Regions from separate parts of the Homo sapiens genome. Here region 2 is linked to region 1. The links come from fine-mapping of genetic effects on plasma protein levels. Region 1 holds a variant in brackets. A gene starts in the other region. All regions are shown on their forward strands.

Region 1 (2,910 bases):
GGAGGTAACAAGTATTTACTAGTTCTTTTGTGTACCTACTGTGGGTGGGTGGAGGCTTATCCAACACTAACTGAGAAAGCTCGTGAAGTAACCTGTGTGCTTCTTCGAGATCTTATTCCTAGATTTGGACTGCCCTTACGGATCAGCTCAGATAATGGGCTAACGTTTGTGGCTGACTTGGTACAGAAGATAGCAAAGGTATTGGGGATCATTTGGAAACTGCATGCCGCCTACCGGCCTCAGAGTTCCAGAAAGGCAGAGCAGATGAATCAGACTATCAAAAATAGTTTAGGGAAAGTATGTCAGGAAACAGGATTAAAATGGATACATGCTCTCTATAGTATTATTTAAAATTAGATGTACCCCTTCTAAAAGAACAGGATATTCCCCTTAGGAAATATTATATCATGGGACCCTTCCCATATTGCAGGGACTTCCAGGCACTTCCTGAGAGTTAGGTGAAATTGAGTTACAGCGACAGCTACAGGCTTTAGGAAAAATTACACAAACAATCTCAGCCTGGGTAAATGAGAGACCCTGTTAGCTTATTCTCCCCAGTTCACCTTTTCTCCCCAGGTGTTCGAGTGTGGATCAAGGACTGGAACGTAGCCTCTTTGTGCCCATGGTGGAAAGGACCCCAGACTGTCGTCCTGATCACTCCCACTGCTGTGAACGTAGAGAGAATCCTAGCCTGGATCCATCACAACCGTGTAAAACCTGCAGCGCCTGAATCCTGGGAGGCAAGACCAAGTCTGGACAACCCCTGCAGAGTGACCCTGAAGAAGATGACAAGCCCTGCTCCAGTCACACCCAGAAGCTGACTGGTCCACGCACAGCCGAAGCATGAGGAAGCTCATTGTGGGCTTCATTTTTCTTAAATTTTGGACTTACAGTAAGGGCTTCAACTGTTCTTACTCAAACTGGGGACTATTCCCAGTGTATTCATCAGGTCAGTGAGGTAGGACAGCAAATGAAAACAATCTTTCTGTTCTATAGTTATTATCAATGTATGGGAACGTTAAAAGAGACTTGTTTGTATAATGCCACTCAGTACAAGGTATGTAGCCCAGGAAATGACTGACCTGATGTGTGTTATAACCCATCTGAGCCCCCTACAACCACCAGTTTTGAAATAAGATTAAGAACTGGCCTTTTCCTAGGTGATACAAGTGAAATAATAACTAGAACAGAAGAAAAAGGAATCCCCAAACAAGTAACTTTAAGAT[T/C]TGACGCTTGTGCAGCCATTAATAGTAACAAGCTAGGAACAGGATGTGGTTCTCTTAACTGGGAAAGGAGCTACAGAGTAGAAAATAAATATGTTTGTCATGAGTCAGGGGTTTGTGAAAATTGTGCCTTTTGGCCATGTGTTATTTAGGCTACTTGGAAAAAGAACAAAAAGGACTTGGTTCATCTTCAGAAAGGGGAAGCCAACCCCTCCTGTGCTGCCAGTCACTGTAACCCACTAGAACTAATAATTACCAATCCCCTAGATCCCCATTGGAAAAAGGGAGAATGTGTAACCCTGGGGATCAAAGGGACAGGGTTAAACCCCCAAGTTGCCATTTTAGTTCAAGGGGAGGTCCACAAGCACTCTCCCAAACCAGTGTTTCAAACCTTTTATGAGGAGTTAAATCTGCCAGCACCAGAACTTCTGAAAAAGATAAAAAATTTGTTTCTCCAATTAGCAGAAAATGTAGCTCATTCCCTTAATGTTACTTCTTGTTATATATGCGGGGGAACCACTATCAGAGACCGATGGCCTTGGGAAGCCTGAGAGTTGGTGCCCACTGATCCAGCTCCTGATATAATGGGGGCTTGTCCAGGATCTCATCAGGACTGGATGGCTCTCGCTGGACTATACTGGATATGTGGGCAGAGAGCCTACATTCAGTTACCTAATGAATGGGCAGACAGTTGTGTTATTGGCACTATTAAGCCATCCTTTTTCTTATTACCGATAAAAACTACTGGTACTATCTGTAAATTCCAGACATTGTATGAGAAAGCACTGTAAAACTTTTTGTTCTGTTAGCTGATATATGTAGCCTCCAGTCACATTCCTCATGCTTACTTGATCTATCATGACCCTTTCACGTGGACCCCTTAGAGTTGTAAGCCCTTAAAAGGGCTAGGAATTTCTTTTTGGGGGAGCTTGGCTCTTAAGACATGAGTCTGCCAATGCTACCGGCCAAATAAAAACCTCTTCCTTCTTTAATCCAGTGTCTCAAGAGTTTTGTCTGCAGCTCATCCTGCTACATTCTCTTCATCAATAAGGATGTATGGTAGTGTAGATGTTCATTGGCTTGATTTAGCCATTCCACAGTGCAGACAGACATACTTGCAAAACTTCATGCTATACACCATATGTGTTCAATATGTATTTGTCAATTAAAATAAATTTTGTTAAAGAGAAAAGGGAAGAAAGTCATACAGTGTTAAGGAGGTGCCTGGTGCCTCGTAGTACTATAAACACCTTCCTCTCATCATTATTATTTCTAGCATTGTAATTAATGATATTATGTTACCCTGTGGCCCCCTGGTGCCCTTGGTGGAGGCTGTAGTTTTGGAGGCCACAAGTCAACTCAGGTCCCTGCCCTTCTCACAGGGTGGCACGGCAGGGCCACTGGGACAGGACAGCCCCACCATGAGCACTGCATGATTCCATCAACCCACACCCACATGGCACAAATGCCTCCCTGCAGGAGCCCGGCCCTCCCAGCCTCTCCTGGGAGCCCAGTCCCAGCACTCTGGGTCAACCACGACCTCCCTCCCAGTGGGGGCTCTGATGGCCACACCCTGCTGTCCCTGCAGCCCTGCAGCTGGGTGTGGTGAGGACTGCATGCTGAGGTCCATGCTGATGTCAGCACCAGCTGCAAGGACAGAGGGTCCCCTTCCCAGAACTGAGCACAC
Region 2 (2,910 bases), not on the chromosome of region 1:
TCCTGCAATACTTAATAATTGGCACCGTTGCTTTCTAAAGACTCCATGGTGCATTCAAGAGTATCCAACTTCAAGGGAATCTCCGCATTTCAATGAAAGGAGGAAGAGTGTGCTGATAAACCTACCAGCACCTATTGAGCAATGTCTATTATAGTAATTTTGCATACATTTTTATTTAAGGGAAAAAATATAGGTATTGTGAAATATTTTGCTAATCTTATAGAAAAGGAAAAAATCCCGTTATTTAAAGGGAAAAGTAAATTTAACAGTTGCCTTTTTTCTTAATGTCAGGGCAGATCTTATTTTACAGTACAGTGGGGGAAATAGAAACATGTGAAAGGCAAAAGGCAGGCTCCTAAATTAATGTCAGTGAAGTTCAGGGTGGGCAAATGAGTGTGTGTGAGGTATAGGAAATGCTGATGACTTCTTTAATGCTTGAAGTCCGTTCACAGGTATCTAGCCCTAGAATGCCTAGAACAGGAAGAGGCAGCTGGTGTTCTGCAAAACTTGGACAGGGGCAAAGTTGCTGAAAAAGTTTTGGTTTAACCCGAAGATAAGTGGAAAAGAGCTTGTCCATGAACCCAGGTTCTCACTCTGTTTACAGAAGTGTGTTGAGTACAGTTGGTGAAGGAAGAGGTAACAAAAAATGCTAAATATTTTATCCATGAAAATGACTTCCAGAAAAGGAAGAATATGAACCCCAGACCGAAGGGGAAAAGATAGTTAATAGTATTATCTAACCTGGTTGGTATTTGTAATGAATGGTGATTTTAATTAGTCATTAGCCATAATGATGTTTATTTACAGTATAACTCCTGAATGCTACTTAAATAAACCAGGATTCAAACTGCAAGCCAGCCAGGCCGTTCATTATTTAAAACGTTTTAATCGGGGCTTCCGGGTAGAAGGTGGAGCGGCAGGGTGTAATTGGGTTGATGGGTGGGACCTGTCTTGACCATCGGAGTTTTATAATCGAGGGCCAGGAGGGCCCGGGTTGCTCTCCTGGTTATGTATGTACTTGTACATAACCACCTAAAGAATGGTGAAATAAATGTTCTTGGAAATTCCTACCCGGACTGGCTAGTCCTTGCGGAAGCAGCGTCCGGGCCCTCGGGTAACGTTTGAAGAGCTGGCAGCGTCTCAGGCTGCTGCGTGGCGAAGGGGCGGACCGGGGGACGGGGGGGTGGGCCCTTAGGGGCTGGGGCGGGACTTCCCTGGGCACTGAGTCAAAGCTTGAGGGGAGTGTTCGCTCCCGCATTTTCGATTCCACTCTCTTCCGTTTCTGTCGCTGCAGTCGTCCGCGGGTAAGGCCCTCCCTAGACCCTTTATACCTACTTTACCTTTCGGAGGTCAAGACACCTCCTGTTGCCGCCTCCTCGCCCAACACACAGGCGCCCCCCGCACGGGTACCAAGCTTGACTAACGGCCTCTAGGGGTGTGTGGTGGGACTTGAAATCCTCCCTTAATGAAGTCACACCTTCTCCGTCCGCTTCCACCCGGTCGGCCCATGGCAGAGCCCCCATGTAGCCCAGGAATCGGCTTGGCCCTTCGGGGAGGTCAGCGTCCTTACTATCCCCACTCTCCAGTGCGGCACATTCGTTCCCCTAGGACTCCGGCCGGTTGCCGGCCCCAGGCGGTGCTTCTCCCCACCACCGCCCAGCTCAGCTCAGCCCAGCCCAGCCCACTCTGCCCTTAGAGGCCCTTCTCCCCAAAGACGCACTCCAGAAGTCTCGCCCTCGTGCGGCTGAGGAGCCTGGGATCCCAGACCTGAACAAGGTGAGCATCCCTATATTTTAGCCCAGAAAGATCTGTGTGGCTCACTTGCCGGCCTCGTTCTGTCACACAGAGTCCAGATTTAGCCTTGAGTTTTCCTAGTGAAAGACAGACCCTGGTATCACTATGACCCTCCTCAGGCTTTCTTACCCCGCCTCAGAAAGCAGTGAGGTGTCTGCTTTCTCCCAGGGCTTCTTTAGATAGGGGTCTTAACCACACCTGTGACCAGTCTGGCCTCCTCTCTCCTTGATTCAAAGAATCTCTTTTCTGCCCTATCCAACTTCCTTCCCTTAAACTGAATGACAGCTCAGCAACTTTTCCAGAGAAAAATTAAATGCTCTGACAATCACTTATGGAAGTTCCTTAAAGTGAAGTAACTTCTGCTTTTCTTTTGTTTTCCCTTTTGTAGGCAGATTGGTCTCTTTTAAAATAATGAAAGGAGTCGAAATGCATTGAGACTTCTGAGAGTCCCATGTGACCACCCAGTTTTTCACATCCTATCTTCCTTAGGCTTGAGCTTGCTTAAACTGTGGTGAAGCTCCTTGCCAGTCTTGAGAACTTCAAACCAAAATTACATCTGGCGTCAGTGCTAACAAGCTTAGCACTGAACTTTGGTCTTTTCTCATTAGTGAAACCCCCGCCCCTGAAGAATGGGTAAGACGTTTTCCCAGCTGGGCTCTTGGCGGGAGGATGAGAACAAGTCAATCCTGTCCTCCAAACCAGCCATTGGCAGCAAGGCTGTCAACTACTCCAGCACCGGTAGCAGCAAGTCTTTTTGTTCCTGTGTGCCTTGTGAAGGAACTGCTGATGCCAGCTTCGTGACTTGTCCCACCTGCCAGGGCAGTGGCAAGATTCCCCAAGGTGAGTGGCCCAAGGCTCTGGAAATAGCCTGGAATCCAGGGAAAGTTCTTAGCCTGTTGGCCTGGGGCAGCCCCTCTGAGTCTCCTTGGATGGGGTTAGATCTGCTCCCAGCTCTTGACCTCCCAGTCTCAGGCTGGCCAGGGAGATACTTAACTATCCTTGGGTTCCCTGCAAAAACCTGCCCTCCTTCCCTGGTTGTATTCTCCAGCCCCTTGTGGGAAAGAAGGATTCTAGCCACTGTGCTTCTGAGCAACACTGTGTGTCCTAGGATTCATT

Direction of the effects. Alleles are on the strand shown, and positions count from the first base shown. The strength of an association depends on the size of the effect and on how common the allele is.
For the plasma level of the protein whose gene starts at base 1,257 in region 2, allele C in region 1 goes with a lower level than allele T (weak association).

Evidence for each region. PIP is the chance, under the fine-mapping model, that this variant and not a neighbour inherited with it causes the effect. Protein levels are from antibody-based Olink assays in UK Biobank. Linkage for the fine-mapping came from a reference panel and not from the study's own genotypes, which makes the PIPs less certain.
Region 2: it holds the start of TMEM106A, and the variant in region 1 is fine-mapped to the plasma level of the TMEM106A protein (UK Biobank, PIP 0.96).

The regions. Positions count from the first base shown.
Region 1 is chr20:24,930,771-24,933,680 of GRCh38, forward strand. LINC02967 (long intergenic non-protein coding RNA 2967) reads left to right here. Exons shown (of 3, transcript XR_001754563.2): 2 at 1-4; 3 at 577-2,215. Among named protein-coding and RNA genes, the nearest start is that of LINC02967, 14 kb to the left of the region's middle. The variant T/C (reference allele first, on the strand shown) is at 1,227.
Region 2 is chr17:43,210,619-43,213,528 of GRCh38, forward strand. TMEM106A (transmembrane protein 106A) reads left to right here and starts at 1,257. Exons shown (of 9, transcript NM_145041.4): 1 at 1,257-1,304; 2 at 1,609-1,776; 3 at 2,403-2,634. The coding sequence starts at 2,424. It overlaps NBR1 (NBR1 autophagy cargo receptor), which reads left to right. Exons shown (of 21, transcript NM_005899.5): 21 at 1-1,070.